Homo sapiens: one gene and its partner. The protein of the gene in region 2 interacts with the protein of the main gene of each other region in a biochemical or structural test. Each region holds a gene or a part of one and is shown on either strand. Other genes may lie near its edges.

Region 1 (7,777 bases), on a different chromosome or scaffold from region 2:
CAGAACTTCCCCTAGTGTCCCCTGCTGTGCTTGCATGGCTCACTGTTGTACCTTCAGCATCTAGCACAGTGCTGGGCACACAGTAGGTGCTCAGGAAATGGCAGTTGAATGTATGAGTGACTGAGTGAATGAATGAATGAATGAATGGGGCCAGGAGTGGTGGCTCACACTTGTAATCCTAGCACATCAGAAGGCTGAGATGGGAGGACCCCTAGAGGCCAGGAGTTCTAGACCAGCCTGGGCAACATAGTGAGACCCCCATCTCTACAAAAAAAGAGAAAAATCAGGTAGGTACGATGGCATATGCCTGTAGTCCCAGCTGCTTAAGAGGCTAAAAGTGGGAGGATCGCTTGAATCTAGGAGGTAGCAGTTGCAGTGAGCTATGAATGCACCACTGCACTCCAGCCTGGACAAGACCCCATCTCTGGAAAAAAAAAAAAAAAGGACTGAATGAGTGAGTGTCTGTCTCTAGGGACAGACGTTTACCCAATAGACCCTGGGCAGGGCCCGGGTAGCTTCTCCTTGGCCAGTTGGCAATGTGCTGCTGTTTCCTGGCCTGAGTTTAATGAGGACTAAGCAGGACCCCAAGAGGTTCAAGGAGGAATTCTCCAAATGGCCCCTGCTCCTCCTGAGGCAGCTCTTAAAAATCAAAACCATTAGCTCACACAATGATTAAAAGATCAAAGCCAGCTGCTCTGCCCAGAGATGAGGCTGGGGCAGACGCAGGTTACGGGCAGCACCTGGCAGCCAGCAGCCTGGGAGAGCCACTGTGGGCGGGGGCCCCACCTGTCACCAGGAAGCTTCTGCTTCAAGGAACCTGAGGGCAGTGCATGGGAGAGCCCTTCTTGGAAAGACCTGAGTTCCCCTTCCAGGACAGTGACTCAGTCCTTTGTCATCTGGGCTTTCTTTCCTGTTCAGAGGATTCTCCAGGTTTGCCCAGGGTTCCTTGGTCACAGCACTTGTAGGGGAGGGAAGAATCAGTTTGTGCCTCACCCTGATGGTTACAACGCTGACCGGCTTGCCGTGTGCAGGTGAAGACCAATTAGAAGACCTGGGAATTCCCACTCCTGCGCCCACCAAACTCCCCCACCGGCAGCCAGCAGCACCTCCATGCACCTGACTTCACACCTGGCTTCACCTTGTCTCGCAGAGTTTTTTGTTTTTTGGTTTTGAGATGGAATTTCGTTCTTGTTGCCTGGTCTGCGGCTGCAGTGGTGTGATCTCGGCTCACTGCAACCTCCACCTCCTGGGTTCAAGCAATTCTCTTGCCTCAGTCTCTCAAGTAGCTGAGATTACAGGCACGCACCACTACACCCGGCTGATTTTTGTATTTTTAGTAGAGACAGGGTTTCCCTTTTTGGCCAGGCTGGTGTCAAACTCCTGACCTTGGGTGATCCCCGCAACTCAGCCTCCCAAAGTGCTGGGATTGCAGGCGTGAGCCACTGCGCCTGGCCGCAGTTTTGATTCTGGAAGGCTGACCTTAGGGAGCCACTGCCTCGGCTCCACACACCCCAGAGGAGATGGGGGTCAGAGGTGTGGATGCAGGACAAGCACTGGCCCTGGGCTGGCCTCGACTGCTGAGTCCCAGGCTACTGTGTCTGAAAATGGGAAATTGTAAAATGGAGCAGGTGTAGGCAACAATTTGGTCACAAAAGGAAAATCAACTGGGGAGGAAGACAAGAAAAGCCAGCGAGGGCTGAGTCCGGAACCTGCGTCAGCACCCGTGAGTCCCCGAAGAGGAAGCTCCACAGGACCTCCGCGGTCAGCCCGGCTCCTGGGCCACACCCTGACATTAGCCCTCCCGGGGCACACTCTGTGTTGGTTTTTTAAAATTCTGATGGCTGATTTCCTGGGTTTGAGCTCCTAGCCCTGCCAACTACTAGCTGTGTGACCTCCCCTCCGGCTTCAGGTTCCTCTTCTGTGAAATGGAGACAGTAATAACTACTTCAAAGATTGTGGTGAGGATTAAAAACAAAACAAACACATCCCCCAAACCGCAAAACCACACTTCACCTACAGTCCACAGCGCTTAGTGGAGACCCTAGAGAACAGCAATTACTCGATACACTATTGGCTTTCATTGCAACTCTTCCAGGAATAAAATGAATGAAATGTTAGTTGAGGAAAGGATGCAACAAGGGGGAACAAAGGCACACATGTATCTCATCAAAGCAAACCGCTTTGTTCTCGATATGACTGTGACATGGGTGTTCAGACGCTAACACCAGCGTTCGCCAGCTGTGTTACCCTGAGAGTGTCATTTCACCTCTCAGGGCCTCAGTTATCTATAAAATGGGAATGACATGGCACTTGTCCCTGCAGGCCATCAGGAAATGCTTGGAAAGCATGTTTCGAGGTGCCTGGGGCACAGTCAGCTGTCAAAGGGGGATGGCTATGCTGTCCCTTTCTATTTTTTTTTTTTTTTTCTGAGATGGAATCTCACTCTGTCACCCAGTCTGGAGTGCAATGGCGACATCTCAGCTCACTACAACTTCCACCTCCCGGGTTCAAGCGATTCTCCAGCCTCAGCATCCCGAGTAGCTGGGATCACAGGCATGCGCCACCATGCCCGGTTAATTTTTGTAATTTTAGTAGAGATGGGGTTTCGCCATGTTGGCCAGGCTAGTGTCAAACTCCTGAGCTTAAACAGTCCACCTACCTCGCCTCCCAAAGTGCTGGGATTACAGGCGTGAGCCACCACGCCCAGCTGGTCTACTATTCTTTAGGATACTGCTATTGTCATCATGATCTGGACCAAGCGAAACAGGAGGAAAGAGAAGTAGAAATCTCACCCCGGGAGCTACCGCTGGTCCTTGGAAGGAAGAAGTACTGTACCTTCTCTGCCCGGGTCAGCAGGAGCCTGGGCCATGCTGACAGCAGCTGCAAGGAGTCGGAGAGACTTGGCAGGTGTGCAGGCTTCTGCACTGTGGCCCTGAGAGGGTGGGCTAGGTCGAGGCTGGGGCTTCTGAAGTGGCCGAGCCTGGTGCTTCTTGCAGCTCTGAACCCACAAGGGGAGGGATGCCAGCTTCCACTGGGCAGGTGTCAGCTGCTTACAGCCCGGAAATAGATGCCTAGCCAGGCCGGCCAGATTCGGTTTCAGGAGAAAAAGAAAATGAAACTTCTCTGTTCGTCTTTTGAAAGAAAAAAAAAGTGGAAGCCAGGTGGATGAGCAAGACAGAGTTGGGGACCTGACTTGATGTTGACAGGGAGGAGCTGTAAACTTGGCAAGACCAGAGCGTCCTCCGAAGAGGCCTTTGAGACAGAGGACTTCCCTCACCTTCCCCGTTCCAGGCACAGCCCACCTGGACCTCTACATTTTTATTTTCTGAATCAGCATCAGAGAACTGAAGAAAATAAAAATAAAAAAAAGAGCATGCACCACGTGGAGGGGGATGCCAGGGCGTGGCATCACTCTGATGATGTGAGGGGCTGGGGCTGGTTATCTGGTTTCTGTGTTTTTGTTTGTTTTTGAGACAGGGTTTCTGTCATCCAGGCTGGAGTGCAGTGGCGTGATCACGGCTCACGGCAGCCTCGACCTTCCGGACTCCAGCGATCCTCCCACCTCTCAGCCTCCCTAGTAGCTGGGACCACAGGCCTAGACCACCATGCCCGGCTAATTTTTGTATTTTCTGTAGAGATGGGGTTTCATCGTGTTGCCCAGGCTGGTCTCAAACTCCTGGGCTCAAGCGATCTGCCTGCCTTGGCCTCCCACAGTGCTGGGATTCCAGCCGCAAGCCCCCACGCCCGGCCCCGCTGGTTCCTGTAGTACTTCCTCCTCGGGGACTCACAGGTGCTACAGAGGCACCGTCCCCAGCTCTCAGTGGCTTTTCTTGTCTTCTTCCAGTTTGTTTCCCTTGCCCACACTAGGGGCAGAACATTTAGGTGCGTGAAGGCCCTGAGATTGTTCTTGTGTGTATCCATGTGAGCCTCTTTAATGAACACCTATTATGCGTTTTCCAATCTCAAGTGCTCCTCCAACCCATCTACAGGGTAGGGGCCAGTTCTGTCTTCTTCTCAGGGGGGAAACTGAGGCTAGAAAGGCAAGATCACTTGTCCAAGGCCACACAGAGTCCATGACAGAGCTTGTCCTGTCCATTCCCCAATTGTGTTTCCTGATCTATAACACCCAGAAGTCACTGGTGAATCACCCTTAGTGCACAGATGGCGTGGAGTTCCCCGCCTCATCATAAAACTTGCTTATTAATTCCAGAGTCAGATGCCTGGGGTCAGCAGCCGAGTGGTTCGGAATGCAAGCCTGGGTCAGCATGCTTGGGTCCAAACCTGGCTCCGCCATTTACCGGCTGTGTGACCTCGGACAAATTATTTAACCCCTCTGTGCCTCAGTTTCCCCATGTGTAAAAGGACTTAATCAAAGGACCTAGCGCATGGGGTCGAGGTGAGGACCTAAGGGGCTGATACAGCCCAGCTGTCGGGCTAGAGCCCCAGAGCCATCCGTAGTCACGGGCACCGTGGTCACCTCACAGGAATGCTTCTGGGAGAGGACCCGTTGCTTACATAATTCTCAAAAGGGCCAGTGACCTCAGAAAAACTCAGAGCCACTGTTCTCTTCCAGATCACAGAAGGAGGAACTGAGGCCCACAGAGGTGAATGCTGTGTACAAGGCCCCCCAGCTTTTGGCAGCCAAGGGGGTTGAGAGCTCAGCCCTGGAAGTCCCTGGACTTGGGGTCTGTGTCTCATCTGCAGAGGGCTGGGAGGGCTAGAGACGTCTGTGCTCCTTGCAGACCCCATTTATGCATAAGGAGCAGCTTAGCGGCAAATACAAATGGAAAGGGGGTCCGGAGGTTTATCCTGAAGCTATCTGTCTTTGCAGAGCGAGCACCTGGAGCCCAGGTCTTCCGCCCTGCCTGCATGTTAAGTGTTTGAAGCAAAAAAAAAGTCTCAATGCCCAGGCCGGCCCAGACTAGTCAACTCCAACCTCTGCGGCTGGGGCCCGAGGGTGAGATTTTTTATGCTCCTGGGTGACTTTTCCTGCTTCCAGGTGGAGAACCAGTAAGTCTGGGGCAAGTCAATAACAGCAAACTGCAGGATGCTTTTATTCTCCTTTTATGTAAAAGCGAAAACTGCAGGTATCACCCTATGAAATAACAATAGTGCTCTTTAAATGGGGGGGTAGGTGGGGTGCTGAGGGAGATGATGAAGGTGCCCTCCGGAAGGGGCTCCGGCTGAGCCCTGCAAGGCTGAGTCCCTTGGGTGTCTGGGGTGCCACGCCCGAACTGGCCACCAGGTGATGCCGCTCACCAACCTGGGCTTGGGCGCACCTTGGCTTCAAGTTCCCTCTGATCTGCAGGGAGGAGCTCCTACCCCAACCCATGGTTGGACTCCAGACTTGATGAATCACAGCTCCAAGACGTGCCCACCCCTCCCACTGCCTTGTCCTGCATCATCCTTTATTCTTCCTGTCTCTTCAGTCACTCATCGTGGTTTCTTCACTCATCTTTCCTGGAAGGAGTCAGATTCCAGCTGTTTCTCTGTGAAGCCTCCAGGCAGTTCTTTGTGCTCTTCCGGCCTGGCCTCCCAGTGTTGGTCTTGACACAGCCCACCACTCCCCCGTGGGGAAACTCTCTCTCCCCCCATCTCCAGGGCCCATGCTAGCTTCTCCCCTTCCTTCCCTGGCCTCTGCAGCTCAGGCCTTGACCCCAGGTCCCTGGTGGGCTTGCAGGTCAGGTTGAGGGATGTTAGCTTGGTCTTGGGTGCCAGCCTTACTTCTAGGAAGATGGCTTCTGCTGCAGGGAGGAGGCTGGTGCCCCTCACGGCTGGTCTCCATCCAGACTGTGCTTGGATGACCCCTTTCTGTCCCCGTGGCCACATCCTGAAGGCACATGGAGCCCCTCTGGGCCTGAGCCATTTTTAGGAGTCTGTAGCAGGGACCACCATGCCAGTGGAGACCAAGCGCCTCGGGAAGTTCCCTGGACAAGGATTCTGTCTTGTCTCTTCTCCAGGGCAGGTTCTCCTTCCCAGCTGTGTGGCGCTACCTCTCTGAGCCGCGGTTTCTTTAACTATAAAGCAGAGATACTAAGAAAAAGCATTTTTGACACTTAGTATGTGCTCACAACATTTGCATAAGTTAGAAAACATGATGCATCTCCACAGTATCTCTTTAGACAGCAAACAAACAAAAGAGAGCAATAGACAAAAAGAAGAAAACATTTCACGTGGGTAGGTTCCACCTTTCTTTGCATTCCATGGCACATCTGGAGATGAAGCCAGGAATCTGCTATGTGCTTGTCACCCACTGAGTGGGAGTCTTACTTTTAAATACTTAGATTGCCTTTATTTCTCTTCTCTATTTAAGAGCTGTTTAAGTTGAGTTTGACCCTAAGGATTATCTTTAAGCCTAAATACCAGTGGCTAAAACAATAGAGTTGTGTCTTTTTCTTGAAAGAGTTGTAGGCATTCCAGGTTTAGTGTGGTGACCTGGGGTCCTTCTACATTGTCGGTCTGCCATTTGTGGCCTTCATTCTCAAGTTTGCCTTACATTTTAGAATGGCTGCTAAGCTCCAGCCATTACATCTGCATTCCTTCCAGCAGGGAGTAGGAAAGGGAACAAGGGCAGATATCTCCCTTTAAGCACGCATCTTACAAGTTGCACACACATTCCACTAATACCCCATTGGTCAGTCTTGTGGCTCTTATCTGTAAGGGGAGGCCTGGAAAGATGGTCTGTATTGTGGGTCACCATGTGCTCAGCTAAAATTGGGGTTCTATGACTTTAAAATGGGGGACAGTAGATATTGGCAGAGACCTAGCTATCTCTGCCATTTCAAGGTTCCCTGGTGTCCCCAAGAAAGGAGCAAAGATACCTCCTCTGTGCCTTCAGGTGTGTCCATTCACGGGGTTCATTTATTCAGCAGTTGCTGTGCCTCCTTACTCTGCCTGGAAAGGGCCTCAAAGGCCACAAGACTTCCAAGATGGCACCACTGCCTGCTGGAGTCCTCATCTCCTTTTGCCTTGGAAGGCGCACTCCCTGTTCATGGCTTGTGTTTTTCTGGAAACTATTAGAGCTCTCCGCCCAAACCAGATGATAATTACATGTTACTGATCTTGAGTCTTTAAATTTTTCTCTCTCTCTTTTAAAAGAGAGATATTTTTACTGCACATTGTGTTGACAAAACCCAAGTCTCCCTTCTACCAGGCAGCCTGGATTTTATTTTCAGATTTCCTCTGTGAATTCATGCAGGGGGAGGAGGTGGAAAGGTACTGAATGTGAATAATAACATGTCTTTGGTCAGGGACAAGGGTCAGAGAACCAGGGGTGGCTGAAGAGGGGAATGGAGATTGCCCAAGGTCACAAAGTCATCCTCCTGGGGTGGAATGAAGACTGAGTAAAACTGGTGTGTCCAGGAAAGCAGGTTTTCATTGCAGTCCCTAGAGGAGTCTGCCCTGGCCCTGTTCTCTGCTCTTCCAGGCAGAGCTGTTGATGGGGCCTCCATTGTTTATCTGTATCCATTGGAGTTGAAGAGACCTGGGGTTCTGGTCTTGGCACCCAGCTTTTTAACTCTGTGCCTTGAGCAAGTTACTGCTCTGTCTGAGGCTCAGTTTATGTCTTTGTAAAGGGGGTCATAGAAGTACTTACCTTGTGGGATTGTTGCACAGGTTAAATGGGATTGTGTACCTGTAGGTCCTAGTAGAGCACTGGGCACATAGTATGTGCTCAATAAACAGGAGCTAGTCATGTTATCACCATGTGATGCTCAGCTGTCCCTCTCTCTGGTAATAAAGCAATCCTATTCACTCACCTGATCATTTGCCAAATACT
Region 2 (7,024 bases):
TAACCAGGTAACCTGGGAGTTCTGTCAGGCCAATGGCACTCATGTTCCCTTCTCTACCTCCCTGACTGCTGCTGGGCTTGAGCCACACTGGGAAGTGGTGGGGTCATTTCTCACACGTGGGACCGTGGTTACTCTGCACTTTTCTCATTCTTTTGCCATTATGGTGGCAGCAGCTTTGGCATCAACATGCATCCTCACTGTGAACATGAAGTCACAGCCCGTGGCAGAATGCATGTTCTACTACTTCCTCTCCTGGAGCCCCCCGGTATTTCTAACTATTGGTTGGATACTGATTGGAATAAAAGATAACAAAGAACCCCACATCTGTGGTTGGCTCATGGCTTTAGCCATAAACAGGGGTGAATATTATCATATCATATAAACTCCTTGTCTTACTAGTCATCAGATCCTGGTCTGACCAATGGTCATTGTAGCCAGGGGCTACCAGTATATCTCTTTTGTATGATTTTTAGTATCTGTACCATTGGCTGGATGACACTCGCCAGTCAACTTTCAGCTTTTTTTCCTCCTTAAGGTCTTTTGATGGATGGTTAGAGGAGTAGACAGGTCTCGAGGCCTAGGTTTATCTCCATACAGCTTTTATTGTACCCCATCCTTTTGCCAAGCGTGGGAAAGATTCCTAAGTTGTCACACATCACAGATCTTTCTTTCACTATCAAACCTGTTCAATTATATTAGTTTCCTAGCACTGTTGTAACCAATTATCACAAACTAGATGACTTAAAACAACAGGAATTTGTATCACAGCTCAGGAGCCCAGAAGTCCAAAACCAAGATGGCGGCAAAGTTGATTTTTTTTTTTCAGAAGGCTCTATGTGAAAATCGGTTCTATTCCTCTCTCCTAGCTTCTGGTGGTTTCTAGCAAACCTCGGCATTCTTTGGCTTATATCTGTGCTATTCCCATCTCTGCCTCTACTGTCACATGGCTTTCTTTCCCGTGTGTCTGTATGTCTTCTCCTCTTATAAAAACACAGGTCAAGGCCGGGTGCAGTGGCTCACACCTGTAATCCCAGCACTTTGGGAGGCCGAGACAGGTGGATCACCTGAGGTCAGGAGTTCAAGACCAGCATGGCCAACATGGTGAAACCCCGTCTCTACTAAAAATCTAAAAATTAGTTGGGCGTGGTGGCATACACCTGTAATCCCAGCTACTCAGGAGACTGAGGCAGGAGAATCGCTTGAACCTGGGAGGCGGGGGTTGCAGTGAGCTGAGATTGTACCATTGCATTCCAGCCTGGGCGACAGAGCGAAACTCCATCTCAAAAAAAAACAAAAACTACAGGTCATTGAATTTAGGGCCTGTCTTTATCCAGTATGACCTCATCTTAACTTGATTACACCTGCAAAGATGTGATTTTCAAATAAGTTCACATTCACATAAGTGAACAATTTTTGTGGAGGGTATAAATCTATCTACTAGAACAAGTATCAAAATGTTACTGCCTACTGAGAGCCACCCTTTTTCCCTTTGCCTCACAGTTTCTTGTCTAAACTGACCTCAGGTTCTGAGAATTGGCATTGTATCATCATGCCACTACTCTGTGGTACACCCTCTGGCTGACCACAAGCAATAATTGCAGGTTTGTTTTGCCATTTGCACTCATGCAGCTTAACTCCACAGGGGGAATACAGGACAGGAGATATAGCATGCAGACAGGGCCGCTTCAGGTGAGCTCTCCGTGAGGATTCTTTTGTTTTGTTTTGTTTTTTGAGACGGAGTCTCGCTCTGTCGCCCGGGCTGGAGTGCAGTGGTGCGATCTCGGCTCACTGGAAGCTCTGCCTCCCGGGTTCACGCCATTCTCCTGCCTTAGCCTCCCGAGTAGCTGGGACTACAGGCGCCCGCCGCCACCCCTGGCTAATTTTTGTATTTTTAGTAGAGATGGGGTTTCACCTTGTTAGCCAGGATGGTCTTGATCTCCTTACCTCGTGATCCGCCTGCCTCGGCCTCCCAAAGTGCTGAGATTACAGGGGTGAGCCACCGCGCCCGGCCTCAGTGAGGATTCTTACGGTGGTACAAGACCATGTGACCATGTGGATGCGTGTGAAACTAACGTAGCTTAGGTAAATCTTACATCAACGGATTGATTCCCTTGTAAAGACCATGAACATAGCTTCCAGGGCCCTACAGAGAATATTTTGTTACAAGAGTCTCAATCCTCTTACGGAAAATGAGGTCTGTGCTTACCAAAAAGAATAAAAATAAAATAATATACCAGGGGATGGTGATGGCGATGTGTTTTTTATAGGAAGAAAGGACTTAAGCCTAATGATAACCTTTTTTTCCCCCACATGTCTAGTCTGACTTCCAATCTTATTTCCTTTACCTTACCCTACTTCCCACCCTCATCTGCTTCTCTCTGTTAACTTGTCCTGCATCCTCCCATCCCTGCCCCCACCTCCTATTCATTGGAAAGAGACTGTCACTTTTACTTCATTTAGGAAGTGTCACATATCCAGGTTCCTCTAGGCTCATGTGAGGCCAAGGCCTAGGGCTTTTTGCATATCAGCCACACATTTAAAAACTTTCGAACATGTTATGATGCTATGTCCTCCATGAACGGGGCATTCACTTCCATGATTCCTTCTGCCTAAAATATTTGTTTTCTTTCTCATTCTGTATTCCTTTCTCATTATTCAGCTTTCATTAAACTCTTACTTATCCAAGCAAGATATCTTGGATAGTTCTCTATTTAGCACATTATTTGGTCTTCTAAAAACCTATACCTCTCTATGATGGTGTTTTTTACACCTACCATTTTACATTTTATGAATGATTATATAATTAGCTTCTATCTTCTTAGGTGACTGTTTACTTTATTCTGGCTAATACCATCTGTTCATTACTCAACTTTGGATTTTAATCCATTTCCTGAATTTTAATCACGGAAGATAATATGTCTTCAGTGAGAATTTCCAAAATAAACACATGAATAATTGGCATTCAATTAGTGGATGTGGATTTAACACAGACAGAACTTCATCGCTCCTAAATGTGGTCTCCCTTTATGTATTGGGACATCTCTCTCATGGCCAACAGCCATCTCCTTGCTATTTCTATTCCTCGATGATCTGACATTGGTATGAATCTGTGATCTATGTGTAATTCAGCTGGTTACACCCCTCCCCCAACGAATACACACCTTTGGGTTCCTATCAACCTCTGTAACATCCTTCAGGCCAAGAAGAAATCCTACCATCTACAAACACAAGACCCCCCCAGAAATTCCCAACTTATGTGGTTTCCTCCATTTCTACACTCTCATAACCCTGGATCCCAATCTACTTCTTTCAGGCTTTACCTCGGCTTTTCTTTGTTTAAATAAGTGGAGTAGCATGGAGACCTCTGAAAGAGAACTCTGAGGGTATTATGTTCACTCCAATTCTACCATCGAATTGGGTGATCTTTGTAAATCATTTAATTTTATTTATTCATCTGAAGAAAGGGAGTACTCTTATTTCTCAAGAATTTTGGAAGGAGGAACAAACAGGCCAAAGTGATTTTTAAATTGTAACTGGTAATGAAATCTCCATATTGTGGTCATTGCTGTTTCTGTCGGTATCTCTGGAAAGTCTGTGAGGGCATGGGAGGATTTTGTGTGGGTAGATGTGTTAGGAGGCGAGCACTTCTTCACTGGAAACCACATCTGGGGTTCTAAAGTTCAGCTATTGAAGAATTTCCAAATAATGGAAGGAAGATAATGAAACAATGATAAAGTTTTAGTCATCTGTGGAGAGACAGGGAAGTTTTTTTTATATGTTTATCAAACATTGTGCTTCTCTGTGTTCTAAACACTGAGGCTATAGCAGTAAAAAGACAAAAGTGCCTAATCTACATGTAGATTATGTTTTAGAAAGAAGAGGTGGACATTTAAAAATAGATAATGATAATAAAAGAAAGATGGCAAATGTACACTGAATGATGAGTTTGTGGTTGTGCTGTACTTAAGTTTGTCTTAGCAGCCCTTCTGATGAAGGGACATGTAAGGAGAAAGTTGAAAAAAGTATAAACGAAAGTCATGCAAATAGCAACAGGATGGTAATTCTAGGCTGAGTAATGAACAAGTGCAAAAGCCTTGAGGCATTAACAGCTCGCCCAGACCACTTTCAGCCATTTTTGGTTTCTCTTCCTCATCTTCTTTGTTCTTTGATATTGCAGTCTCGGCCAGTCTTTATTGTCTGTGCAATTAGAATGCTTTTTATTTGTACCATTCTTATACCATCCCCTTTCAATCTTCTCAGCCATCCAGGGGTCTTTAACCAGAAGAGAGAGGAGAGCCTCAGGAGTTAGGACCAGAAGAAGCCAGGGAAGCAGTGCAATGGCTTCAAAAATCTTGCTTAACGTACAAGAGGAGGTGACCTGTCCCATCTGCCTGGAGCTGTTGACAGAACCCTTGAGTCTAGACTGTGGCCACAGCCTCTGCCGAGCCTGCATCACTGTGAGCAACAAGGAGGCAGTGACCAGCATGGGAGGAAAAAGCAGCTGTCCTGTGTGTGGTATCAGTTACTCATTTGAACATCTACAGGCTAATCAGCATCTGGCCAACATAGTGGAGAGACTCAAGGAGGTCAAGTTGAGCCCAGACAATGGGAAGAAGAGAGATCTCTGTGATCATCATGGAGAGAAACTCCTACTCTTCTGTAAGGAGGATAGGAAAGTCATTTGCTGGCTTTGTGAGCGGTCTCAGGAGCACCGTGGTCACCACACAGTCCTCACGGAGGAAGTATTCAAGGAATGTCAGGTAGGGCCCTAGATGGAGGGAGATGGGGCAGAAGATGGTAGTTGGTGGAAAATCTCACCTTTTCATCCTTTTTTTTTTTTTTTTTTTTTTGAGACAGAGTCTCACTCTGTCGCCCAGGCTGGAGTGCAGTGGCGTGCTCTCGGCTCACTGCAACCTCTGCCCTCTGAGTTCAAGTAATTTTCCTGCCTCAGCCTCCCAAGTAGCTCGGATTACAGGCGCCTGCCACCGCGCCTGGCTAATTTTTTTTTTTTTTTTTTGGATTTTTAGTAGAGACGGGATTTCACCATCTTGGCCAGGCTGGTCTTGAACTCCTAATCTTGTGATCCACCCACCTCGGCCTCCCAAAGTGCTGGGATTACAGGTGTGAGCCACCATGCCCGGCCTTTTCTTTCTTTTTTTTTTTTTTTTTTTGTGAGCAATAAAGCTTTTTAATCACCTGGGTGCAGGCGGACTGAGTCTGAAAAAGGAGTCAGCCCTTTTCATCCTTCTTTACCCCCTGTGGAACCATAATTCTGAGTCCCGTGATCTTCTCCATGTACATCTTTCACACTGTGCTCAGCTTCCAATGCCTGGGGTACACTCTTGTGTATTCCTTTCATTTACATAACAGATGATCCTAGAGTACAGTCTCTTAGCCAAGAATGAGAAATTTTTGTCTTGTTTTTTCCTTTTTCATTGTATAAGTGATAAATTCCTTCCCAAAGTTAGCTCTCTTGCTTCTCTAAGCAGGATAATTGCTAAGGAACATTGTGGATTGAATGAGGAAAGAGCATTGATAAGAGGAAAGGACTTTCTGCAGGGTAAATACTTACTCTAAGGAAAGACAGAATCAGGCTACTCCTTTTGAGGGGTATTGATTTTCATCACAATGAATGAACAATACATTCATCTCCTCAAAATTTTCCCCATGTCATAGATTCTAATCACCAGCTTCACAGTTTCTGTAAATTGCTTTTTTCTGGGATCAACTTGATTTTTTCCCTGTTTGTCCTCTATCCAGATACTAAGAAAGCTTATAGCTTGACTGTAGTGTGATTCCCTTCTCATAGGAGAAACTCCAGGCAGTCCTCAAGAGGCTGAAGAAGGAAGAGGAGGAAGCTGAGAAGCTGGAAGCTGACATCAGAGAAGAGAAAACTTCCTGGAAGGCAAGAGGAGATTCTGAAGGTTTTCTGAGACAGGAATCTTGACAGGACCTTAATCCAAGGAGGCCTCGTCCTTTTTATTCCTTGACATTGCATGAGTCCTGAAGCCATTTGATTAGTTCTCTTCTCTGTCCTGTCCCTGTTGGGGGTGGAGGCTAGAAAGTGGACATGTTACAATTACACATACATACCTGGAACTGAGCACAAAGATAGACTCTATGATGAGGAAGGCTAGCAAATACTGTGTTCCATTGCTCTTTTCCAACGGGGCTCTACTACTTCTGGTGGAAGACACTACATAAAGGACTATGGTTTTCCTCAAGATTCAAATTAGGAGTGTGGTAAGGCAGGCAGTCATGAATATCCAGGAAAGCTATCTAGAAGCTAAGCCTTATGTTTTATATTTTGTCTCAGGGTTGGCCTAGATAAGACAGTTTGAGGTCATTGTTTTGGTAGGTACTGAAAGGAAAATAGTAGGAAAAAATAGCTTCCCTCCAAGTACCTCTATTGCTTCTACTCCCTTGCTGATTTGAACTCCCTGAAAAAAAAAATCGATATATAGATAATACAAATATATATATACAGATAATATAAATACACACACACACACACACACACACACACACACACACACATATATATATATATATATTTCCCTACTGGCTCCTAATCCCTTGCACAATAGGCCTTAGCCTGACAAACTTACTACAACTCTCTCTTGTCCATCCTTGCAGTATCAGGTACAAACTGAGAGACAAAGGATACAAACAGAATTTGATCAGCTTAGAAGCATCCTAAATAATGAGGAGCAGAGAGAGCTGCAAAGATTGGAAGAAGAAGAAAAGAAGACGCTGGATAAGTTTGCAGAGGCTGAGGATGAGCTAGTTCAGCAGAAGCAGTTGGTGAGAGAGCTCATCTCAGATGTGGAGTGTCGGAGTCAGTGGTCAACAATGGAGCTGCTGCAGGTAAGAAGGTTCGCTCAATCTGAGATTCTGGGAACACAGTTCCCTCCTGTGTCCTTGCGTTCTCATCCTGGTGGTGACACTAAGGGGTTTCTTTGGCCTTGCAGTGCCGCCTTGTCGTCCATTCTAGATGTCATGGACATGAATGACATTTTTATTA

Evidence for each region. The genes of interacting proteins can lie anywhere in the genome.
Region 1: the proteins of TRIM34 (region 2) and ZBP1 form a complex in vitro, tested with the Homo sapiens proteins (one study listed by BioGRID).

Annotation. Positions count from the first base shown.
Region 1 is NC_000020.11:57,617,427-57,625,203, forward strand, and holds the start of ZBP1 (Z-DNA-binding protein 1), read right to left. Parts: upstream 3,001-7,777; 5' UTR 2,870-3,000; coding exon 2,836-2,869; intron 1-2,835.
Region 2 is NC_000011.10:5,627,995-5,635,018, forward strand, and holds part of TRIM34 (E3 ubiquitin-protein ligase TRIM34), read left to right. Parts: intron 1-4,260; coding exon of another isoform or gene 4,261-4,337; coding exon 4,338-4,760; intron 4,761-5,809; coding exon 5,810-5,905; intron 5,906-6,636; coding exon 6,637-6,867; intron 6,868-7,024. Other genes in the region: TRIM6-TRIM34 (tripartite motif-containing 6 and tripartite motif-containing 34), read left to right, coding at 4,261-4,760, 5,810-5,905, 6,637-6,867.